Regions from separate parts of the Homo sapiens genome. Here regions 2, 3, 4, 5 and 6 are each linked to region 1. The links come from fine-mapping of genetic effects on gene expression. A gene starts in region 1. Each other region holds a variant in brackets. All regions are shown on one strand. Distances are from middle to middle.

Evidence for each region.
Region 2: its variant is fine-mapped to the expression of SIN3B in whole blood (INTERVAL, PIP above 0.99).
Region 3: its variant is fine-mapped to the expression of SIN3B in whole blood (TOPMed, PIP 0.98).
Region 4: its variant is fine-mapped to the expression of SIN3B in whole blood (TOPMed, PIP above 0.99).
Region 5: its variant is fine-mapped to the expression of SIN3B in whole blood (TOPMed, PIP above 0.99).
Region 6: its variant is fine-mapped to the expression of SIN3B in whole blood (INTERVAL, PIP above 0.99).

Annotation. Positions count from the first base shown.
Region 1 is chr19:16,827,140-16,831,225 of GRCh38, reverse strand. SIN3B (SIN3 transcription regulator family member B) reads right to left here and starts at 1,828. Exons shown (of 19, transcript NM_001297595.2): 1 at 1,686-1,828; 2 at 1,329-1,435. The coding sequence starts at 1,805. RefSeq lists a silencer at 1,681-1,860 and an enhancer at 1,601-2,102.
Region 2 is chr19:16,746,322-16,750,407 of GRCh38, reverse strand. NWD1 (NACHT and WD repeat domain containing 1) reads right to left here. Exons shown (of 19, transcript NM_001007525.5): 6 at 1-1,269. Among named protein-coding and RNA genes, the nearest start is that of NWD1, 29 kb to the right of the region's middle. The variant A/C (reference allele first, on the strand shown) is at 1,570.
Region 3 is chr19:16,719,042-16,723,127 of GRCh38, reverse strand. It overlaps NWD1 (NACHT and WD repeat domain containing 1), which reads right to left and starts at 3,281. Exons shown (of 19, transcript NM_001007525.5): 1 at 2,835-3,281. The variant A/G (reference allele first, on the strand shown) is at 2,394.
Region 4 is chr19:16,866,955-16,871,040 of GRCh38, reverse strand. SIN3B (SIN3 transcription regulator family member B) reads right to left here. Exons shown (of 19, transcript NM_001297595.2): 13 at 966-1,581. Among named protein-coding and RNA genes, the nearest start is that of F2RL3, 20 kb to the left of the region's middle. The variant T/C (reference allele first, on the strand shown) is at 1,608.
Region 5 is chr19:16,885,147-16,889,231 of GRCh38, reverse strand. F2RL3 (F2R like thrombin or trypsin receptor 3) reads right to left here and starts at 233. Exons shown (of 2, transcript NM_003950.4): 1 at 1-233. The coding sequence starts at 42. RefSeq lists an enhancer at 2,649-3,149. The variant A/G (reference allele first, on the strand shown) is at 2,354.
Region 6 is chr19:16,800,141-16,804,226 of GRCh38, reverse strand. It overlaps NWD1 (NACHT and WD repeat domain containing 1), which reads right to left. Exons shown (of 19, transcript NM_001007525.5): 17 at 4,065-4,086. The region is part of intron 2 of LOC124904648 (a long non-coding RNA gene); the gene reads left to right. Among named protein-coding and RNA genes, the nearest start is that of SIN3B, 27 kb to the left of the region's middle. The variant T/A (reference allele first, on the strand shown) is at 2,365.

The DNA.
Region 1 (4,086 bases):
CTTGGAGTGGTGGTGCGTGCCTGCAGTCCCAGCTACTCAGGAGGCAGAGGCACAAGAATCACTTGCACCCGGGAGGCGGAGGCTGCAGTGAGCCCAGATCACACCACTGCACTCCAGCCTGGGCGACAGCACGAGAATCCATCTCAAAAAAAAAAAAAAAAGTGCCCCCATGTGATAGCATCTGTACACCATGACCTATCTCCTGACTGGCTAGGCCTGAGCTCCCTGTTCCCTCCTGGTGAGAACCAGAGAATACTGACATCGCTCAGCTCCCCTAAAACACTCCAAGAATGGGTACTCGGTTCTGAAAATGTCAGGAGAGCCAACCGCAAGGCCTGGACTCCAAGAAATGGCAGGAGGCCAAAGTCCTCTAAGCAATGTGAAAACTTCCCTCATTTTGTATCAGATAGAGATGACTATGACACAGGTTTCCATCTGAGCAAACAATTGCAATGCATAAATACCAATGGTACTGCCAAGAATGGGAAAGGTGTAAGAAAAATAGGAGGGGAGAGATGGGGTCTCCCTTCTGGCTGCATTGCAGCCCAGCCCTTAGCACTGGGCTCCCGGAAGGAAACCAGGCCAGCCCCACCATGTTTCCTAAGAGGGGGCAGCAGTATGGTAAGCATGTGACTTCCAAGAATCTGAGTCAGAGGGTCTGAGTTCTAGTGACACCTCTGCCACTTAGGTGGGTCCCTTACCCACTCCAAACCTCAGTGAGTCTCCTATAAAAACAAGGGCATGATCCCAGGGTTTCCCATCTATCTGTAATCTTCCTTGATTCTGGGCCTGCAAAATCATCTCATGTGTTTTAAACGTTTTCTGTGTGCCAGCTCCCTTACTAAGCATTTTATGCGTCTTACTTCCAAGCAGGCCTGGGACCACAGTGAGCCCAGAGAAGCATCTTGAGGACAAGATTAAAGGGGAAGAGGGTGCCAAAAATTTCAATCATCAAGACAATAACATTTTACAGCGCTTGAAAATAAAAATCAAAATGGGTCCCACCAAATCTTTCATGAACAAAACTAATATAAAAATCAACATATTAAATCAAGGCAGGATTTGACTCTATGAGTGTGCACGGCCTCGCCCTCCCTGCCTCCCCCCAGATCCCTGTCCTGCTTCCAGGAATCCCCACAAAGCTCCACAAGGTGGGTACTACCCATTTCCATTTTTGTTACGAGAAGGAGCTAGGGCTCTGAGAGATTGGACAACCTGCGCAAGGTCACCCGGCTAAGGGGGCAGGCTGGAGAGGGGAGGTCTCACCCCGCTAGGCCCGATTCCGGCCCAGGGGGGTCCCCTGAGGTGGAGAGGGGCCCCGCTGGTACCTCTGGCTTTTGAACTCCTTCATGATCTCCAGGAAGCCGTTGTAGGTGGCAGGGTCGCTGCCAAAGCGGATCTTCACCTGGTCCAGATAGGTGAGGGCGTCTTCTACCTGCAGAGAGGGGGAGGGTCCCGGTGGGCCCTGGCCGCGGAACGAGGGGACGAGGGGCCGGGGTCCCTGAGGGGAAGGGGATGGGCTGGGCTTTCGGAGGGCCGAGGTGAGAGGTGAGGGGTGAGGGGTCCGGGGCAGTGCAGAGGGGAGGCCGAGGTGGGGCTGGGGCCGGGCGGGGCCTGGGTGAGGGGCGCCCGCCCGCGGGGTCCAGAAGATGGGTTCCCCGAGGGAGGGCGGGGACGCCACTCACGTGCACCGGCAGCTTCTCGTGGCCTGCGGAGCCCGAGCGACCCCAGCGGGCGCCGCTCAGCCCCCGGCCCGCGGGGCCGCCGGCACCGCTGCCACCGCTGCCACCGCCAGCGTGCGCCATGTCCGAAGTCGGAGCTGCGCCCCGCCCCGCCCCCGCCCGAGGTCCTGCCGCGCATGCGCAGCCTCCGCCTTTGGAGGCGGGGTTTGATGACGTTGAGGGGCGGTGCTCTTTGAGGGACTCTTCTGAAGACCTTCTCCTTAAGATTGGTATCATAATTAATGATTTATATAGCAGGGGTAGGCGAGCCAAGACCCGCCGCCTACTTTGTCCGGCCCCGCAAGCTCAGAATTATTTTTACATGTTTACATAGCCGGGGGAAAAATCCAAAGAAGAATAGTCTATGACCTGTGAAAAGTTTGTGAAATTCACATTTGAGGGTCCCTGAATAAAGTTTTATTAGCACACAGACACGCCCACGCGTTTACCTGGCTTCTCTGCCTGCTTTCGCCTTACAACAGAGTAGGTAGTTGCTAAAGATCCTACAGATCTGCAGACCCTGAAGTATTTACGATCTGGCCTTTTATGGAAAAAGTTTGTTGGCCCCTGCTTTATAGAGTTGACGGGACGATGAGGTATGAGCCCCCAGCGCCCTAATATAGGGCCTTGCGTGGTGAATTTTTGCTAAATGGCCTTTAAGTTAGTCCTACTCCTCCCATCTTCACTTCCCTATCCTTGGCCCCGTCACTTCCCATCTGGACCAGTTTAGGAGCCTCCTAACTCTGGTACTTTCTTTTTTTTTTTTTTTTTTTTTTTTTTTTTTTGAGACAGAGTCTCGCTCTGTCGCCCAGGCTGGAGTGCAGTGGCGCGATTTCCGCTCACTGCAAGCTCCGCCTCCCGAGTTCACACCATTCTCCTGCCTCAGCCTCCTGAGTAGCTGGGACTACAGGCGCCCGCCACTGCGCCCTGCTAATTTTTTGTACTTTTAGTGCCACCCCACCTGGCTCTAACTCTGGTACTTTCTCAGCCCTGATACTATCAAGAACTCTAGGCTGGGGATGGTGGCTCACGCCTGTAATCCCAGCACTTTGGGAGGCCGAGGCGGACGGATCACGAGGTCAGGAGATAGAGACCATCCTGGCTAACACGGTGCAACCCCGTCTCTACTAAAAATACAAAAAATTAGCCGGGCCTTGAAAAAAAGAAAAAGAAAATGAAAAAATTGGCTGGGCGCCGTGGCTCACGCCTGTAATCCCAGCACTTTGGGACGCCGAGGCGGGCAGATCACCTGAGGTCTGGAGTTGGAGATTAGCCTGACCAACATGGAGAAACCCCGTCTCTACTAAAAATACAAAATTAGCCGGGCTTTGTGGCGCATGCCTGTAATCCCAGCTACTCGGGAGGCTGAGGCAAGAGAATTGCTTGAACCCGGGAGGCGGAGGTTGCAGTGAGCCAAGATCACGCCATTGCACTCCAGCCTGGGCAACAAGAGCAAAAACTCTGTCTCAAAAAATTAATTAATTAATTAATTAAATAATAAAATAAAATGAAAAAATTAGCTGGGCGTGGTGGTGCACACGTTTAGTCCCAGCTACTCGGGAGGCTGAGGCAGGATTGCTCATGCCCAAGAGTTCAAGGCTGCAGTGAGCCATGATCTTGCCACTGCACACCCCAGCCTGGGAAGCATAGCAGTGCTTTTTTTTTTTTTTTTTTTTAAAGAGCATCTCATCTCTTAAAAAAAAAAAAACAGAAAAACAAAAAACTCCACTTTTTCCACCACTCCTTCCAAACCTCCAAGGTCTTCCTATTTCTAATGAGATGAAATCTAAGCACCTACATTGCAGGCTGTCAGAATTGGTCCTTAGGAACCTTTTCCTGCAGGATTTTCCAAGCAAACTGCCTGCCTCTGTGCAGAACTTCACACAATTGCCTGACCAACCTGGCTGCTTCCTGGTCCCAAGCATTGGCACTCACCATTTCCTTTGCCAGAAGTACTGTCATGCCTCTTTGTTATTCAGAAAACACCTATACATCCTTCTAAACGCAGCCCAAATATCCCTTTCCCTCAGGAAGTGTTCCCAGTCCCCTTCTATGTCTCCCCTCAGTCCCTTGTATTTCATATTTGTTTTGTGTCCGTCTCTAATACAAATCCCTGACACAGTCTCTCAGTCAGCATTCATCAAATAAGTGAACGTTCAATTAATGACCAAGTGCTTTCTCTTTTTATAAGTGAAGAGGTGCAGGAAAGTTGAGAGTAAATTGGCATCGAGTGCATCATTTACCAGGCACCTTGCTAAGTGTCAGGAATAGAATGGTAAAAAGGAACGCAAATTTGGCCGTTAAGAGCTTTTAGTCTCTCAGGATAGACAGGAATCTAGTAATCACACAAATGTAAAGTTTCACA
Region 2 (4,086 bases), 81 kb after region 1:
AAGACACAATGTAGCCCAGCACGTGGGCCACGAGGAGCTGCCCGTGTGTCTGCTCCAGGCGGGTGCAGAGTTGGTGCGTGGCTTCCTCTGCGGTGGTGGCCAGCGGGACAGGCACGGTGAAAGAGGCCCATTTCCGGGCTTCCTCAAACGCCAGCCTCAGCCGCCCTGGGTTCCCACACTCTGGGAGGCTGGCCCAGAGCAAATCTGTGTGCACCGGGCTCAGCGTCCTCCTTGCAGCTGCCAGCAGGAGTTGGATCATCTGCTGGCCTTGGTTTCCGGAAAGGGGCTTCACCTCCCAGTAGGCCTCCGGGTCCAGGAGCACCCGCTGCAAGGTGTCCAAAACCCCCAGTGCCCCCGAGCAAGCTGAGAGGATGAGGTGCACCCTCGGGGGGCAGTTGAGAGGCAGCCAGGGAACCCTCCGAGCATGGCGGACAGAGTCCAGGTCATCCATAGCATCCAGCAGGAGCACGAGAGACTCGAAGTTTCTGCAAGAGACAGTGTGGAGGAGGGTATGGAAAAACTGGACCACCCTGGTGTGGGCGTCCAGAACCTGGGCAGGGGGCAAGGGCAGCCCATAGGCCAGGCACACCTGGAAGCAGATGCTCTTCAGCAGGCCACGGGCATCTGAGCTCATTTGTGACGTCCCCAGCAGCCGCAGGACGGTCACTGTCTTGTGCCCCAGCAGCCTTGGCATCTGCTCAGCCAGCTTGCACATCAGGGCTGTCTTTCCAATGCCTGGGGGCCCAAAGAGTACCAGGGGGGTGTGCTGCTTGCTGTCATCGTGCCTGAGCTGCTGCCCAAGCCGGGCCAGGAGTTCCTGGCGTCCGCAGAAGGTCTGAATGACCTCCGAGCTCTGCCAAAGGTGGTGGCGGATCTCTTGGTAGAGCCACGCCAACTCCTGTCCGGCCGTATCCAGCTCACGGAGGCGTGTGAGGACCTGGTGATTGGCCCTCACCACAAACTGCTCACCCAGCTCCTTCAGGTAGCAGGCGTGAGTCTTGTTCTTGGGGTTCACCAAGTCGCGGCTCCACGGCAGGCGGTGGGTCTTGAGGACCCCTGGGTGCATGTCAGTGATGTGACTTTTGAGGCTGCTGAGAAGGTTCTGGGCATCAGCGTCCAGGCAGCCATCCGCGAGCCGGTCCACCATCCTAAGGGCGCAGTCTTCAAGGATGTGTTTGTGGAGGTCTTGGATCTCTCTAAGGAAGACGGTGGCTCCCTGTTCCCGGTCCTCTGAGCTCAGCAGGCTCCGCTCTATCTCCCACTCAATGACTGCCAAAGTGGGGAAGGTGGGAAGGAAGTGTGGTCATTATTGGGTCAGCAGCTGACCTAAATGGGGTTGCTGGGAGACCTGTTGTTGGGGGATGTGCATTGGTTCTCAAGATTAACGTGCACCAGAGTCTGACCTGGGGGTCTCGAAAAGACCCACATGGCTGGACCCCACCTCCAGAAGTGATTCAGCAGATCTGAGTGGGGCCCCGGAGTTTGCATTTGCAACAAGCCAAGGCTTGCTGGTCCAGGGACTGCACCCAGAGTTACACTAGTTAAGCCATTACTCTTATTCTTCTTCTT[A/C]TTATTATTATTATTGAGACAGGGTCTCACTCTGTCACCCAGGCTGGAGTGGAGTGGCGCGATCTTAGCTCACTGCAACCTCCGCCTCCTAGGCTCAAGCGATCCTTCCACCTCAGCCTCCCGAGTAGCTGGGATTACAGGCATGCACTAGCACGCCTGGCTAATTTTTGTATTTTTTGTAGAGATGGGGTCTTACTATGTTGCCCAAGCTGGTCTCCAACTACTGAGCTCAAGCAATTCAACCTCGGCCTCCCAAAGTGCTGGGATTACAGGCGTGAGCCACTGCGCCCGGCCTGATTTAGCCATTATTAATCAAAGACCCCTCAGGGTAGGCAACACAGAGGTCCCATGTGAGGAGCAGTCACACTGTAAAACAATGCTGTCATCCTCAAAAAGTGAAACATGGAGTTACTATCACGCCCAGCAATTCCACTCCCAGGTATCTGCTGAAAATACCTGAAAACAGAGACTCCAACAAATATTAATACACCCTAGCTTGTAACAGCACCATTCACAATAGCCAAAAGACAGAAACAATCCAAACATCCATCAACGGGCTGGACATGGGGTCTCATGCCTGTAATCCCAGCACTTTGGGAGGCCAAGGTGGGCAGATCACCTGAAGTCAGGAGTTTGAGACCAGCCTGGCCAACATGGTGAAACCTTGTCACTACTAAAAATACAAAAATTAGCCCAGCGTGATGCCGCACGCCTGTAATCCCAACTACTCAAGAGGCTAAGACAGGAGAATCACTTGAACCCGGGAGGCAAAGGTTGCAGTGAGCCAAGATCATGTCACTGCACTTCAGCCTGTGCAACAGAGCGAGACTCCATCTCAAAAACAAAACAAATCAAAACAAACATCCATCAACAGATGAATGGATAAACAAAATATGGTCCTTCCACACAATGGGATACTATTCGGCCATTGAAATGGATGAAGTACTCACAGGTGTTAAAATGTGGATGAACCTCAAAAATATGATGCCAAGTGAGAGAAGCCAGACACAAAAGGCCATGTAGTGTGAGATTCCATTGACATGAAATGTCCAGAACAGGCAAATTAATAGAGACAGAAAGCAGATTGATGGTTGCCTGCGCTGGGAGAGGGGAGATGGGGAGTGTTTAATGGGTAGAGCTTCTTTTGAGGTGATGAAAATGTCTTGGAGGGCCAGGTGTAGTTCATGCCTGTAATCTCAGCACTTTGGGAGGCAGAGGCTGGACGATCACTTGAGCTCAGGAGTTCGAGACCAGCCTGTGCAAAACGGCAAAACCCCGTCTCTACAAAAAATAAGTTAGCCACCTGTGATGGCGTGTGACTGCGGTCCCAGCTACTGGGAAGGCTGAGGTGGGAGGATTGCTTGACCCCAGGAGCTGGAGGCCACACTGAGCCGTGATCGTGCCACTGCACTCCAGCCTGGGCAACAGAGTAAGACCTTGTCTCAAAAAAAATTAAATAAATAAATAAATAAATAAATAAATAAATAAATAAAAAGAAAATGTCAGCCAGGCGCGGGTGCTCATACCTGTAATCCCAGCACTTTGGGAGGCCAAGGCGGGCCGATCAAGAGGTCAGGAGTTCGAGACCAGCCTGAGCAACATGGGGAAACCCCGTCTCTACTAAAAATACAAAAATTAGCCAGGCGAGGTGGCGCATGCCTGTAATCCCAGCAACTTAGGAGGCTGAGGCAGGAGAATTGCTTGAACCTGGGAAGCAGAGGTTGGAGTGAGCTGAGATCGCACCACTACACTCCAGCCTGGACAATAGAGCAAGACTCCATCTCAAAAAAAAAAAAAAAGAAAGAAAAAGAAAATATCTTGGAACTAGACAGAGGTGGAAGTTACATGACACAGTGTTGGCCATTGAAGAACATGGGCTTGAACTACACAGGTCAAGTTTCTTCTGCCTCTGCCACCCCTGAGACAGCAAGACCAACCCCTCCTCTTCCTACTCAAGGTGAAGATGATGAGGATGAAGACCTTTGTGACTGATGATCCACTTATGTTTAATCAACAGCAAACATATTTTCTCTTCCTTGTGATTTTTGTAATAACATTTTCTTTTCTCTAGCTTACTTGATTGTAAGAAAACAGGATATGATAGATAGAACATGCAAAATATGTGTTCATCGACTGTTTTTTTTTGTTGTTTTTTGTTTTTTGTTTTTAGACAGAGTCTTGCTCTGCTGCCAGGCTGGAGTGCAGTGGTGCGATCTCAGCTCACTACAACCGCTGCCTCCCGGGTTCAAGTGATTCTCCTGCCTCAGCCTCCCGAGTAGCTGGGACTACAGGTGTGCACCACCATGCCCAGCTAATTTTTGTAATTTTAGTAGAGACAGAGTTTCACTATTTTGGCCAGGCTGGTCTTGAACTCCTGACCTCGTGATCCGTCTGCCTCAGCCTTCCAAAGTGCTGGGATTACAGGCATGAGCCACCGCACCCGGCCAACTGTTTATGTTGTTTCTTTGTTTGTTTGTTTGATACGGGGTCTCACTCTGTCACCCAGACTGAAGTACA
Region 3 (4,086 bases), 110 kb after region 1:
CAGGAGGTTGAGGCTGCAGTGAGCCACCACTGGGCAACAGAGAGAGACTCTGCCTCAAAAAATAAAATAAGATCAGGCACAGGAAGAGGCATCCAAGGCAGGGTCCAGAAGAGACCAGGTGTGAGATTTCAGTCGTCCCCTCCCAGTGAAGTTGTATGGCCAGCACTTAAATCTCCCAGCAGTGATGTGTGACAACATGAACAGTTTGCCACCAACTAGGAAAGCTCTCCTGAGCCTTGGTGTCCGGGGTTTTTATTGGGAGTTGGTCACGTAGACATGATTGACCACCAGCATAGCTGACCTTAATCCCCAGCCCCTCCAGAGGTCAACCAATATCACGTGACTTAAAGCTCCCTCTCTAAGTCATGTTGTTAGTATCTAGTGTGAGCCAAGGCTCTCCAGGTAAACAAAGACACCCTTATCCCATTCCAAGGGCTTAGAGGTCACTTCCCAGGAGCAGGTCAAGAGCTACAGCTTTAATGTGTGGGGTATGGACAACTCAGGCCTGCTGAGTTAATTCTTTTTTAAGAGTGAGGGTCGGCCAGGCACAGTGGCTCACATCTGTAATCCCAGCACTTTGGGAGGCCAAGGTGGGCGGATCGCCTGAGGTCAGGAGTTTGAGACCAGCCTGGCCAACATGGAGAAACCCCGCCTCTACTAAAAATACAAAATTAGCTGGGCGTGATGGTTCATGCCTGTAATCCCAGCTACTCAGGGAGGCTGAGGCAGGAGAATTGTTTGAACCCAGGAAACGGACATTGCAGTGAGCTGAGATCGCACCATTGCACTCCATCCTGGGTGACAGAGCAAGACCGTCTCAAAAAAAAAAAAAGTCAAGTCTTGCTCTGTCGCCCAGGCTGGAGTGCAGTGGCACTATTGTGGCTCACTGCAGCCTCCATCTCCTGTCCTCAAGTGATCCTCCCACCTCAGCCTCCTGAGTAGCTGGGATTAACAGGCACACACCACCATGCCTAGCTAGTTTTTTAGTTGTTGTTGTTGTTGTTGTTTTTTTCAAGAGACAGGGTCTCACTCCATTGCCCAGATTAGAGTGCAGTGACATGATCATAGCTCACTGCAGCCTTGAACTCCTGGACTCAAACCATCCTCCTGCCTCGGCGTCTCAAGTAGCTGGAACTATAGGCATGTGCCACCATGCTAGGCTTAAGTTTTTTATTTTTTGTAGGGACGGGAGTCTCACTGTGTTGCTCAGGCTGTTCTTGAACTCTTGGCCTCAAGCCATCCTCCTGCCTCAGCCTCCCAAAGTGCTGGGATTAGAGGCATGAGCCACCACGGGCAGCCAGAGTTAATTATTTTCTCAGCAGTAAAGGCCCAGTAAATAGAGTTGAGCGTCACCATTCAACAGATGAGAAAACTGCAGCTTAGAGTGAGAACTTTCTCACCAGCTAGAAGGGCAGAGTCAGGGAGCGAGTGCGGGTCAGACCCCCTCTCCTCCACGGACCCCGCCCCCATAAACCCAGCCCGGCCCCCCAGCCACCTTCCCACAACTCACCTGGATACCACAGTTTAGCTGCAGCCTGCTGATCTCACTGAGGCCCCAGTTCTGGGTCCCAGCATCTCTCCAGACCTCTCTTAGCACCTCCTCCCCAATCTTCTGATCTTGAATTTGCCTCCACCACAATTTCTGTTCCTTCTCTCGTTTTCCTGGGTCCCAGCAGGCTCCTTGGACCCGAATTCACTTCAGCGCCTGGCCACGCTCCCTTGGTTACTGCCTGCTGATGATCGCAGGAGGATAAGAGTCTTTGACCTTGCCTTTCACCTCTAGGCTTTTTCCTAGTCTCTCTCCCAGACTTCCTCCATCTCAGTATGACAAACATTTGAGGCCAGATCATCCTCTGTGGTGGCAATTGTCCCATGCATTTTAGGATGTTGCAAAGCATTTCCGGCCCCCACCCACTAGATTTCAACAGCACACCCCCACCACCACCACCAAAGTCGTCACAATTAAAAAGTATCCCTAGGCTGGGTGCAGTGGCTCACACCTCTAATCCCAGCACTTTGAGAGGCCAAAACAGGCAGATTACTTGAGGCCAGGAGTTCGAGACCAGCCTGGCCAACATGGCGAAACCCCATCTCTACTAAAAATACAAAAATTAGCTGGCGCGGTGGCATGTACCTGTAATCCCAGCTACTCGGAAGCCTGAGGCAGGAGAATCGCTTGAACCCGGGAAGCAGAGGTTGCAGTGAGCCGAGATCGTGCCACTGCGCTCCAGCCTGGGCAACAGAGCAAGGCTCCATCTCAAAAAGAAAAAGTCTCGGCCAGGTGCGGTGGCTCACGCCTGTAATCCCAGCACTTTGGGAAGCCGAGGAGGGCAGATCATGAGGTCAGGAGATCGAGACCATCCTGGCTAACACGGTGAAACCCCGTCTCTACT[A/G]AAAATACAAAAAATTAGCCGGGCATGTGGCGGACACCTGTAGTCCCAGCTACTCAGGAGGCTGAGGCAGGAGAATGGTGTGAACCTGGGAGGCAGAGCTTGCAGTAACTGAGATCACGCCACTGCACTCCAGCCTAGTGACAGAGCGAGACTCCGTCTCAAAAAAAAAAAAGTCTCCCTAGACATTGCAATGTCCCCTAGGGGGCAGAATTCCCCTTACTCGAGAACCCCCTAGTCTAATGCATTTAGCTTATTTCAACCTCAGGGCCTTTGCACGTCCTGTACTTTAGTGCTCTATGCTGCATCTGTTCATGTTGTTCACATTTTAGCTTCAATGCTACCTCCTCCTGAGAGGCTGTCTCTGACCATCCCATTGCGTAGTGACCCCTTAAGTCACTCCCAATGCCATCGCCTTATTTTAATTTTCTGCATGGTACTCACCAACAGCTGATATGTTTCTACATGTTATTGTTTGTCTGTCCCACGAGAAAGTGAATTCCATGAGCCCAAGGATCTTGTCTGGTAAGGCTGGCGTGCCTGGCACATAGTAGGTGCTCAGTAAATTATCATCACAACAGCTTCCTCCACAACTGTTTCTCTTTCTGGACTTCTGTTTGTTGCTGAAGAAGACAGCTGAGCAGGACTGGGCTTCCCCAGTAAGGACAGAGGCCCTTTGCAGTGTCAGCGTTCTGGCTGTCCTGGGGGCTCCAGCCTCTCTTTAGCCTTTGCTGGTAGTTGAACGACCAATTTAGACTCCTCTGGGGAAATAGGTTAGAGAGGACAGTTTCCTGGCCTCGGCGCCACCCGGAAGACAAGCCCCTGGCTATCCTAGTAACTTTCGTCTTAGGTATTTTATGGGTCTCTCCTTGCCCAATTCTCCCAGCAACTGGGATAATGAAAGCGATTGTTTGCACTAGGGCACCAGCTTAGCCGGGCATTCAGCCCAGACTTAGTGGTTAACTATTGTGTGCCAGGCTGATACGGCTCCTCGTAAAAGATGCCATTTGCTGACAGTCTAGGAGGTGCAGTTGGTTGGCATTTGGCATTAGCAGTCCACATTATTACCCCAAGAGACAGACATTATGATCCTGTTTCACAGATGAAGAAAACAAGATGCAGAAAGGTGAAGTCCCTTGCCTGTGACGCTTCACTACTCTGCACTTGAATTTTCTCACTAACTTCCTGTGTTGGTGAGACAATGAAAAGCATTTATATAGAGAGTGAGACTAACACTACACCTACATCACAGGAAGGGCCCGTGAGATGTTAGCCATGATTAATTACCATTAAAACTCCAAGACCGGGCACGGTGGCTCATGCCTGTAATCCCAGCACTTTGGGAGGCCGAGGCAGGCGGATCACCTGAGGTCAGGCATTCAAGACCAGACTGGCCAATATGGTGAGACCCCTATCTCTACTAAAAATAGAAAAATTAGCTGGGCGTGGTGACGCATGCCTGTAATCCCAGCTACTTGGGAGGCTGAGGCACAAGAATTGTTTGAACCTGGGAGTTGGAGGTTGCAATGAGCCGAGATCCTGCCACTGCACTGCAGCCTGGGCGACAGAGCAAGACTTTGTCTCAAAAACTCACAAATCACCCGGGCATGGTGGCTCACGCTAGTAATCCCAGCACTTTGGGAGGCCAAGGCAGGCAGATCACGAGGTCAGGAGATCAAGACCATCCTGGCTAACA
Region 4 (4,086 bases), 40 kb before region 1:
GCTGCCTAATCTGGCCGGCAACCCAGGGATGGCAGCGAGAATGCTGTGGAGGCCAGGCATGGTGGCCCATGCCTGTAATCCCAGCACTTGGGGAGGCTGAGGCAGGCGGATCACCTGAGTTCAGGAGTTTGAGACCAGGTTGGCCAACATGGTGAAATCCTGTCTCTATTAAAAATACAAAAAATTGGGCTGGGCGCGGTGGCTCATGCCTGTAATCCCATCACTTTGGAAGCCCGAGGCAGGTGGATCACAAGGTCAGGAGTTTTAAGACCAGCCTGGTCAAGATGGTGAAACCTCGTCTCCACTAAAAATACAAAAAAAAAATAACCGGACATGGTGGTGGGTGCCTGTAATCCCAGCTACTCAGAGGCTGAGGCAGAGAATTGCTTGAACCTGGGAGGCGGAGGCTGCAGTGAGCCGAGATCATGCCACTGTGCTCCAGGCTGGGCAATAGAGCAAGACTCCATTTCAAAAAAGAAATACAAAAAATGAGCCAGGCATGGTGGTGAGCGCCTGTAATCCCAGCTACTTGGGAGGCTAAGGCAGGAGAATCACTTGAACCTGGGAAGTGGAGGTTGCAGTGGGCCGAGATCCTGCCACTATACTCCAGCCTGCGCAACAGCGCAAGACTCCATCTCAAAAAAAAAAAAAAAGAAAGAAAAAGGGTACTGTGGAGCTGGGCCATGACGGCTCCACGAGAAAGCCCATGAGAAACAAATGTTCCCCAGTCAGGAGAGGGTGCTACACCCAGGACAGGTGCCACGGCCAGGGGAGCCTGGGCGAGGGGTACGTGAGACCTCTGTCTTATGCTGGCAACTTCCTGTTTGCAATTTCCCATTTGAAATCACAGAATTCTCTTAAAATGAAAAGCCAGAAAGAAAAGTAACAGGACATGTCAGATCATGAGCTGTGACCCCTAACCCCAGGCACCCCCCGGGGCCTCCCGGCAGGCTTTGGAGCCTTACTGGGCTGCTTCAGCCGCAGCTCCATGGCGGGGTCGCTGCCCTTCTCCCTGCGGCCCTCACACAGCAGCTTCTCCCGCTCCTTCTCGGTCCGATACTCCAGAAGCTGCTTCTGCGCCTGGCGGTAGATCTTCAGCAGCCTGGAGCACAGGGTCTGGTGCAGGCGCAGGAAGAAGTACCAGTTGTTGTTGGCAAAAAATAGGCTGTAGACATCGTCCAGGGGCTTGTGCGGGGCTGGGGGCGGCAGGGGTGGCTGCTCAGTGGCCGGGGCATCCCCGAAGGCCCCCTTCTCCTCTGGGGGGCTACTGTGGGGTCCTGGCGCCGGCTTCTTCCGCTCACTGGGGTCTGTGGTCTGCCCCTGGGGGCTGTCCCGGTCCTCATCAGCTGACTCCTCGGAGGCGCCCAGGTCCAGCTGCTGAGAGAAGAAGAGGCTGGGCACGAACTGGTGCAGCAGCTGGTGGATGGTGCCCTGGTCCTCCTTCTGGATGGCCGGCTGCCGCTTCACGTAGTAGCTGATGAGCGCTGCTGCGTCCTCCAGGATCTGCCGGTCCTCGTACACAAAGATGAGGTGCGGCTCGCTAGAGGGGGCACTGCGGCCCTCCGAGTGCTGCTCCTGGTGCTGTGGGGGGAAGGGCGGCCATTAGG[T/C]GGAAAGCCACCCAGCACCCAGAGGACCCCCAGTGCCCATTCACGACTCGCTGTTAACTGGGCCACCAAGGTGGATGAGCGCTGCCCAGAGCAGGATGGGTGGCGAACATCGGTGAGGCAGCAGGGCCTGGGGGGTAGGTCGCTTGCCTCAACCTCTTGTGCAGCCCCATGTGCTCCTGGTCCCCTCTCCGAAAGTGAGGCAGACCCAAGTCATCCCGGGACCCCAGACAAAGGAGCCAAGAGGATTCTGAGATGTGGGGCGGGGTTCACAGGGGGTCTGACAGCGTCAAGCCTGGGTCTGTCGCTCAGCCCAGCTCCAGGACAGAACGGGGCCCCGTGGCTCAGCATGGAGAAGCCTCTGAGGCTGACCTCCTCCTACTGAAAGCAACGGTGGCGCCTGATTCCAGCTCGACCGGGGCTGCCCACACCATGCTATCGATGAAGTCAAGGAGGCAAAGGGTGAGCCGTGACCTCTCTGCCTCTGCCCTCCATCTACTACCCGGAAGGCCTGCAACTGCTCACATCTGAAGACCTGCACGCCCATCGTCACCAAGCCCCCGCCTCCGCTGCTGTCCCCGCCAGCCCCTGCACGTGCTTGCTACCACCATCATGTCACCAGCCCTCCCACCAGCTCCCACCAGCCTGCTCCAACCACTCTCCTCACTGGGTCCAGGGTGACTTGGCCCACAGGAGCATGGTCACCCCAACTAATGCCCTTCAGGCTTTCCCAGGCTGCTCAGAAGACGCCGGCCCCTGATGTGCCCCTCCACAGCTCCTCCAGCCTCACCGCGCCAAGCTCCCTCCTGCGTGTGCAGGGCCTTTGCACATGCCCATCTGCTCTCACTCCCTGGAAAACCCTGTCCCAGGCTCACCCCTCCCCTTGGTCTTTATCTAGATCATGACTTTCATTCCCTCACACCATTAGACAATCACCCCTTCCTCCAGCCTCCCACACCACTGTCCTGGCACCCAGGGCCTCTGCTGGGCAGCCCCAACCCCCTCAGTCCAAGGCAGGGAGGCAGACGCAGCAGGGCTCTTGGGGAAAATGAGCGTGGATGCCATCTCTGCAGGCTCCCGAGGGAAGGACCGGGTCTCCTAGCAGCCTGAGGTTTCCCTTCCTCCTCCCCTGCAAGGCGGCTTAGAGGCTGGTAGGGCCAAGCACACTGACCTGGTTCCTAGGAGTCTGCACGCTCAGCCCTGCTCTGGGCTCTTCAGTGTGACCATCGCCCTCTGACTGCTTCCTAAGTCCCCCAGGTCTCATTTATGCCATAAACACTCTGAAAATTCCTTTACAGTCCCCTCTGAAGCAGGGTCCCCATGTCCATGATCTGTAACCATGCTTTGTAAATCACGTGATGGAATGGGGTTCTGACTTTGGAATTCATCAAGGACCTGCATGTGCAGAGATCTGCATATGAACCTTGGTGCCCCTCCCTTTGTCAGCCCCAGCCCCAGGGAGGGATCCAGGAACTCAGGGTCGCATTGGTGGATTTCCAGGGCTACTTCATCATCTGCACTTTGCAGACACCACAGACCCACAGAACCTATACGGGGTCTTGGGCTTGAGGATCGCCGAGGACTAGAGTGAGGAAGCCAGAGTGGTTGTGGGTGGGCCTGGGGCGAGGGTGGCCCACGGGAAGGGAGGTGGGAGGGAAGGGGGTCCCCACAGTCCCACAGGCTCTGGGAGAGGCCTTGGGCCAGCAGCCCGGCTCCTGTGGATTCCGTTTCTGTGTTGTAAAAGAAGGAGCGACCGCTCACTGTGCAGTGACAGGAGCAAGAAACCAAATCAGGTGAGGCAACACCCCCTGCCCAGGTGGGCACCAGGCTGATAACGCAGCCCGTGCCATGATCTGGGCACTGCCTGGGGAGTAGTGTGCCCTCCTAAGCCACCTCCTCAGAGTGTCCAAGGACCTTCCCGACAGCTGGCTATCACCACGCCCGGCACCCTGCCAAGCTTCCCACCTCAGGATCCTGCAAGCAGGCACTCCCTACACACAGCTACTAACAGGCCCAGCTCCTGGCAACCTGAGGGCCCCGCTGGCCTTGGTTCTATGACTCAGGCCTTGTGAGCCTGCAGTGAGGACATGCAGCCGAAAGCCTCGAACCCAATGACTCAGAGCCCTGGCCCCCTGCGACCAGCCCAGGCAAATGCAACCTCTTGTGCCTCAGTTTCCCCACTGGTAAAATCAGAATAATGCCGCAGCAGAGTCAGGTTCAGGAGTGAGGTCAGATGATGCATTACTCTTTCTGTGTTGCTAACACCGGTGCCTGGCACAGTCGGCAAGAAAGAAATGAAGGCTGCTGCCACCCACTACCTAAGCCAAAGTCCATCACTGCCCCACGGGAGGGACGGAGACTTCGCTAGACAATGGCAGAGTCGGCCAGGAGCGGTGGCTTACGCATGTAATCCCAGCACTTTGGGAGGCTGAGGTGGGTGGATCACGAGGTCAGGAGTTCAAGACCAGCCTGGCCAACATGG
Region 5 (4,085 bases), 58 kb before region 1:
GAACCCCAGCACCAGGGGCCACAGGAGCAGTCGCCCCCACATGACTGCACTCAGGCTGCTCTGGGCTGTGGCCTCAGGCTTCCTGCCTCGCCGGACCCTGAGCCCCAGCTTCTGGAGCCGAGGCGGACGAGCAGATCGCGCCGGTAGAGATAAACCAGGAAGGCTGCCCCTGCCCCCGCAGACCCACCAGGGCCGCTTGCCAGCCAGCCCGTGGGAGGACTGGAGTGTGGGTTATGGAGACCGGGCTGCCCCACGTGGCTATATCCAGTGTGGCGCCTCCCAGGGACCCAGGTGCCAGGCCAGCAAGATGCAGGGGGGGGGGTCCCAGCTGCAGCCAGCACCCCCGGTCCCTGACCAGCCCAGGAAGCATCTGCGGTTCAAGTGGCCACTTCCTGCCAGCCGCTCACATCTGCAGCCACTGTTCTCACGACAGCCCTGTCCTCACCCCAATCCCCACGCCCATCACGGGCTCTGGGCCTTTCCTGAAGTCACCCCCCGACTTCCTATCTCTGGTGAGCAGGATAAGAAGAGCCCTGCTAGGCCAGGCACGGTGGCTCACGGCTGTAATCCCAACATTTTGGGAGGCCAAGGCAGGCAAATCACCTGAGGTTGGGAGTTTGAGACCGGCCTGACCAACATGGAGAAACCCCATCTCTCATAAAAATACAAAAATTAGCTGGGCTTGGTGGCAGATGCCTGTGGTCCCAGCTACTCAGGAGGCTGAGGTGGGAGAATTGCTTGAACCCAGGAGGTGGAGGTTGCAGTGAGCCGAGATCTTGCCACTGCACTCCAGCCTGGGCAACAGAGCGAGACTCGGCAAAAAAAAAAAAAAAAACCAAGGATGGGCGCCTCCCAGAGGGTAATAGCGAGGGTCCCTTCAGACCCCCAGAGCAGCACGAGCCCAGCGTCAGGGACTCTGGCTGAACCTCGAGAGCCCCTCAGCATCCTCGGCTGACCCCATACTCACAAGGCACCCCTGTATGAGTGCCTCACTTCACTCTTGCCCAGGGGACACACGGGCATCTGTAGGGGAGACAGTGATGCTGGGGACAGCACCTGCCGAGGACCGGGGGGACTTCGGGGTGTGTGGCTCGCCTGCTCTGACCTCTGACCCTGAGTGAGGTGGCCAGGTTGAAGGGTCCCCAAGCCAGCCTCCAGGGGGCCTCCCTCCTCTAGCCCCAGCACATCCCCACTCCTGGGTACCATTGGATGGGGGCTCATCGGGCAGATGAAGAAACTGAAGCTCGGGGGGGTACCCCTTCCCTCTTCTGCACAAGGCCCCTCAGTGTTGTCCCTCCCTGCCTCAGAGAGGCCTCAACCCGTCGTGCCCTGGGGGAGTCTGGTATGGGTGGTTCTGGCCCCAGTGTGCTCAGCGCTGGGCTACAGGGGATGGGGGACAGGGCTTGGGGGGGTCTGGGAGCAGGAGGGCCTAGTTGGGAGCCATGAGGATTGGGGAAAATAAAATGAACTAGGGATGGGGGAGGGAGGGGTCCAATGTGGCCGTTTCCTGCCTGGGGGAGCCCTAATCTCATCACACACTTGAGCACTCGGGGATCAGCCAGGAAGTGACTGAGCAGAGTCTTGGACAGAGTCAACACCCAGCTCCAGGAGGAGACACTGAAGCCTGGAGAGAGAGTCTAGCTGGGGCAGGGTCTCAGAGGCCCTGCTCCCATTTCTGGGCAGTTTCCATGGCCACCAATGAGAAAATCAGCTTCACGTCAATGACTTGGGGAAAAAGGTGGCTGAGGACACCCTCAGCACACGGAAAACCCACGCCTGGGCTCCCCCCTCCACCGTCTTCTCTGTGAGCAGAGTGGGAAGCTGTGCAGGGGAGGCTGGGCACACCGGCAGTCCAGTGATGCTGGGGCAGGGTGGTTTGAAGATGATGCATCAAAATAGTGATGCACGACCGGGCGCAATGGCTCACGCCTGTAATCCCAGCACTTTGGGAGGCCAGGTGGGTGGATCACGAGGTCAAGAGATCGAGACCGTCCTGGCCAACATGGTGAAAACCCGTCTCTACTAAAAATACAAAAATTAGCCAGACATGGTGGCGCACGTCTGTAGTCCTAGCTCCTCAGGAGGCTGAGGCAGGAAAATCTCTTGAACCCAGGACGCAGGGGTTACAGTGAGCTGAGATCACACCACTGCACTCCAGCCTGGGCAACGGAGCGAGACTCCGACTCAAAAAAAAAAAAAAAAAAAAAAAAAAGCCAGGCACAGTGGCTCACACCTGTAATCCCAGCACTTTGGGAGGCAGAGGCGGGTGGATCACCTGAGGTTGGGAGTTCGAGACCAGCCTGACTAACATGGAGAAACCCCATCTCTAGTAAAAATACAAAATTAGCTAGGC[A/G]TGGTGACATATGCCTGTAATCCCAGCTGCTCGGGAGGCGAGGCAGGAGAATCACTTGAACATGGGAGGCAAAGGTTGCAGTGAGCCGAGATTGCATCATTGCACTCCAGCCTCACTCCAGCCTGGGCAACAAGAGTGAAACGCGTCTCAAAAAAAAAAAAAAAACATAGTGACGCACATGCCCTTATACTCAAGGGTTCCATGTCTAGGAATTTCTGCCAGACACACGCACAGGAAGATGTCCTTGGGAGGATATCCACACAGCAGCACAAAGCAGGGAGGTGCCCGCCAACAGCCCCTCCCCGGGAACAACACGGCAGCACAGGCTGTCGGGGGAACCCCAGCAAGCAGAGGTGACGATGACATTGCCCCTGTCAGGCACAAGCTGTACCCAGGCGACACTGCCCAGGTACTTCCCGGAGGACGCTGGGCGCGACAGCTTTGGAGGAGAGGAAACCATGTGTCTGTTTTGTACTGTTGGAGTTTTCTGTGCACTGTGTTACTTTCCATAAAAACTTTTTTTTTTTTTAAGATGGAGTCTCGATCAGTCGCCCAGGCTGGAGTGCAATGGCGCAATCTCAGCTCACTGCAACCTCTGCTTCCTGGATTCAAGCAATTCTCCTGCCTCAGCCTCCCCAGCAGCAGGGATTACAGGCGCCTGCCACTATGCCCGGCTAATTTTGTGTATTTTTAGTAGAGGCGGAGTTTCGTCGTGTTGGCCAGGCTGGTCTCAAACTCCTGACCTCAGGTGACCCACCTGCCTCAGCCTCCCAAAGCACTAGGATTATAGGCATGAGCCACTGCACCTGGCCAAAATATTTTTTATTTAGAGATGGAGGTTCGCTCTTGTTGCCCAGGCTGAAGGTGCAATGGTGCCATTTCGGCTCACTGCAACCTCTGCTTCCTGGATTCAAGCGATTCTCCTGCTTCAGCCTCCCGAGCAGCTGGGATTATAGGCACCCGCCACCATGCCTGGCTAATTTTTGTATTTTTGGTAGAAACGAGGTTTCATCATGTTGGCCAGGCAGGTCTCAAACTCCTGACCTCAGGTGATCCACCCGCCTCAGCCTCCCGAAGTGCTGGGATTACAGGCGTGAGCCACCACGCCCGGCCAAAATCTTATTTTCTTAAAAAGGGCAGACAGCCAGGCCGGGCTGTTTCAGAGTGGTGGCTCATGCCTGTAATCCCAGTGCTTTGGGAGGCCGAGGTAGAGGGATCGCTTGGGCTCAGGAGTTCAAGACCAGCCTGGGCAACATAGTGAAATCTTGTCTCTACAAAAAATCAAAAAATGAGGTGGGAAGATTGCTTGAGCCCAGGAGGTCGAGGCTGCAGTGAGCTGTGATTGCACCACTGCACTCCCACCCGGGTGACAGAGTGAAACTCTGCCAAAAAAAAAAAAAAAAAAAAAAAAAAAGGCAGCCTTAAAAAGTAAGGGAATTCTGACATATGCTACATTGTGGATGAATCTTGAGGACATTATGCTGAGGGAAATAAGCCGGTCACGGAAAGACAAATCCTGAGTCATTCCACTCATGGGAGGTCCCTGGAGTGGTCACCTCCATAGAGACAGGAAGTAGAATGGGTTGGGGGGTGCCAGAGGCTGGGGGAGGGGGATTGGGGAGTGAGTGCTTAAGGCCACAGTGTTTCAGTTTTGCAAGATGGAAGAGTTCTGGGCTGGGTGAGGTGGTTCACGCCTGTAATCCCTGCACTTTGGGAGGCCAAGGCAGGTGGA
Region 6 (4,086 bases), 27 kb after region 1:
TGCTCTACCTCTTCCAGGGCTCCCCATGGAATGATGCTGAGAGGGACTTTAGCTGAGCCTGCATTCTTGCTCAACCCTTTCCCCCGCCAGCCCCATTTTCTCATCTCCCTCTGGGGTTCTCCTGGAAACACCCCTCAATACATCACTTGTGCAAATATCCTCATCACAGATTCAGCTTCTAGGTAACCTGAATTAAAACAGGCCAAACGGAAACAACCAGATTGCCAACTACCTCATGCAGAAAATGTATAAAATGAAATCCTGTTTTTGACCAGCTACTTTCTTTTTCTTTTTTTTTTCGGGTGGTGGAGTCTCACTCTGTTGCCAAAGCTGGAGTGCAGTGGCATGGTCTTGGCTCACTGCAGCCTCCACCTCCCAGGTTCAAGCAATTATCCTGCCTCAGCCTCCCCAGTAGCTGGGATTACAGGCACACACCACCACGCCCAGATAATTTTTTTTTTTTTTTTTTTTAAGTAGAGTTGGGGTTTCGCCATGTTGGCCAGGCTGGTCTCCAACTCCTGACCTCAAATGATCCGCCCACCTCAGCCTCCCAAAGTTCTGGGATTACAGGTGTGAGCCACCACACCTGGCCATGACTAGCTAGTTTCCACCTGATTGAAGTTATAGGCGTGTTATGGACTGAAGATTTGTGTCCCCCTGACAAATTCCTATGTTAAAATCATCACCCTCTGTGGAATGGTATCAGGAGCTTGGGCCTGTCTTAGTTCATTGGTGTTGCTAATGAAAACCTGTTTTTGACTAGCTACTTTCTACCTGATTGAAGTTATAGGAATGTTATGGACTGAAGATTTGTGTCCCCACCCCCCCACCAAATTCCTATGTCAAAATCCTCACTCCCCATAGGATGGTATTAGGAGCTGGGGCCTGTCTAAGTCTGTTGGTGTTGCTATGAAGGACTACCTGAGGCTGGGTAACTGAGATGGTTTGGCTGTGTCCCCACCCAAATCTCATTTTGAATTGCAATAATTCCCACAGGTCAAGGCCGAGGCCAGCTGGAGATAATTGAATCATGGAGGCAGTCTCCCCCATACTGTTCTTGTGGTAGCGAATAAGTCTCATGAGATCTGATGGTTTTGTAAAGGGCAATTCCCCTGCACACACTCTCTTGCCTGCCACCATGTAAGACGTGACTTTGCTCCTCATTTGCCTTCTGCCATGATTGTGAGGCCTTCCCAGCCATGTGCAAATGTGAGTCCATTAAACCTCTTTCCTTTACAAATTACCCAGTCTCAGGTATGTCTTTTTTTTTTTTTTTTTTGAGACAGAGTCTGACTCTTGCCCAGGCTGGAGTGCAGTAGCAAGATCTTGGCTCACTGCAATTGCCACCTCCTGGGTTCAAGCGATTTCTGGCTAAGTTTTGGAATTTTAGTAGAGACAGGGTTTTACCATGTTGGCCAGGCTAGTCTCGAACACCTGACCTCAAATGATGCGCCTGCCTTGGCCTCCCAAAGTGCTGGGATTACAGGTGTGAGCCAGCAGGCCCGGCCTCAGGTATGTCTTTATTAGCAGTGTGAGAACAGACTAATACAGTAATGCATAATTATGAATAAGAGGTTTATGTGGCTCATTGTTCTGCAGGCTGTACAGGAAGCATGGTGCCAGCTTCTGCTTCTGGTGAGGGCCCCAGGCTGCTTCTTCTTAATACAAAAGGTGAAGGGGGTTGGGGTGTGCAGAGGTCATACGGCCAGAGGAAGCAAGAGAGAGGGAAGTGCTAGCTTCCTTTTTTTTTTTTTTTTTTTTTTAATTGAGATAGGGTCTTGCTCTGTCACCTAGGCTGGAGTGCAGTGGTGCAATCACAGTTCACTGCAGCCTCAAATTCCTGGGCTCAAGCGATCATCCTGCCTCCATCTCTCAAGTAGCTGAGACTACAGGTGAATATCACCATGCCCAGCTCATTATTTTTATTTTTATTTTTATTTATTTATTTATTTTTGAGACAGAGTCTTGCTCTGTCACCCAGGCTGGAGTGCAATGGTGCTCAATGCAACCTCTGCCTGCCGGGCTCAAGCGATTCTCCTGCCTCCCTCCTGAACAGCTGGGATTACAGGTGCCCGCCACCACGTCCGGCTAATTTTTGTATTTTTAGTAGAGATGGGGTTTCACCATGTTGGCCAGGCTAGTCTTGAGCTCCTGACCTCGTGATCCACCCAACTCAGCCTCCCAAAGTGCTGGGACTACAGGCGTGAGCCACCATGCCCGGCCATTATTTTTATTTTTATTGCGACAAGGTCCATGTTGCCCAGGCTGGTCTTGAACTCCCGGCCTCAAGCAATCTTCCTGTTTCTGCCTCCTGAGTAGCTGGGGTCAGGTTCTTTTTAACAACCTCGCGAGAACTAACAGAGT[T/A]AGAACTTACTCACCACCACCACTGCCTTGCCAGGAGAGGGCATTAATCTATCCACGAGGGATGTGTCCTTATGACTCAAACACCTCCCGTGAGGCCTCCCTCCAACACTGGGGATTAAATTTCTTTTTTTATTGTTGTTTTGTTTTCAAACAGGGTCTTGTTCTGTCGTCCAGGCTGGAGTGCAGTGGCACAATCTCAGCTCACTGCAACTTCTGCCTCCTGGGCTCAAGTGATCCTACCACCACAGCCTCCCAAGTAGCTTGGACTACAGATGTGAGCCACTACACCGAGCTAATTTTTGTCTTTTATGTAGAGACGTCTGGTCTCAAACTCCTGAGCTCAAGTGATCCGCCCACCTCAGCCACCCAAAGTGCTGGGATCACAGGTGTGAGCCATCACGCCTGGCTTTTTTGTTTGTTTTTAGAGACAGGGTCTCACTCTGTCACCCAGGCTGGAGTGCAGTAGTGCGATCATGACTCACTGTAGCCTCAACTTCCCAGGCTCAAGCGATCCTCCCACCTTAGCCCCCAAAATAGCTAGAACAACAAGCACATGCCACCATATCCAGCTAATTTTTTTTTTGAGACAGAGTTTTGCTCTTGTTGCCCAGGCTGGAGTGCAATGGCGTGATCTCGGCTCACTGCAACCTCTGCCTCCCAGGTTCAAGCTATTCTTCTGCCTCAGCCTCCTGAGTAGCTGGGATTACAGGCATGCACCACCACGCCCAGCTAATTTTGTATTGCTTTAGTGGAGGTGGGGTTTTTCCATGTTGGTCAGGCTGGTCTCGAACTCCCGACCTCAAGTGATCTGCCTGCCTTGGCCTCCCAAAGTGCTGGTATTAGAGGTGTGACCCACCATGACTGGCCACATCCAGCTATTTTTTAAATTTTTAGTAGAAATGGCATCCTCTCATCTTGCCCAGGTGTTCTTGAACCCTAAGCTCAAACAATCCTACTGCCTCGGCCTCCCAGAGTGCTGTGATTATAGGTTTAAGCCACCATGGCCAGCCGGATATTAAATGCCAACATCTGGTTTGTAGGGCCAAACCTCCGAACTGTAGCAGAGTGACAGGGAAGTGATTAGATCATGAATGTGGGGCGTTCCTGAATAGGATTAGTGCCCTTATAAGAAGAGACACAAGAGATTTCTCTCTCTCTCTGGGGACACATCAAGAAGATGGCCATCTGTGAACCAGGAAACGGGTCCTCACCAGACACGAGATCTGCTTGCACTTTGATCTGGAACTTCCCAGCCTCCAGAATGTTGAGGAATAATGTTTCTTGCTTATGCCACCCAGTCTATGGGGATAATTTATTTTATTTTATTTTTCTGGGACAGAGTCTCACTCTGTCGCCCAGGCCGGAGTGCAGAGTCAGGATCCCGGCTCACTGCAGTCTTCGCCTCCCAGGTTCAAACAATTCTGCCTCAGCCTCGCAAGTAGCTGGGGATACAGGCATGTGCCACCATGCCCGGCTAACTTTTGTATTTTTAGTAGAGACAGGGTTTTGCCATGTTGGCCAGGCTGGTCTTGAACTCCTGACCTCAGGTGATCCACCCGCCAAGGCCTCCCAAAGTCCTGGGATTACAGGCGTGAGCCATGGGGCCCAGCCTGTGGGGATGATTTGTTACAGTAGCCTAAACTAAGACAGATGGCTCCAAGCCTTACCCACAAAAATGACCATACTTATACCTTACCAACCTTCTGCCAAGTCCCAAATAGT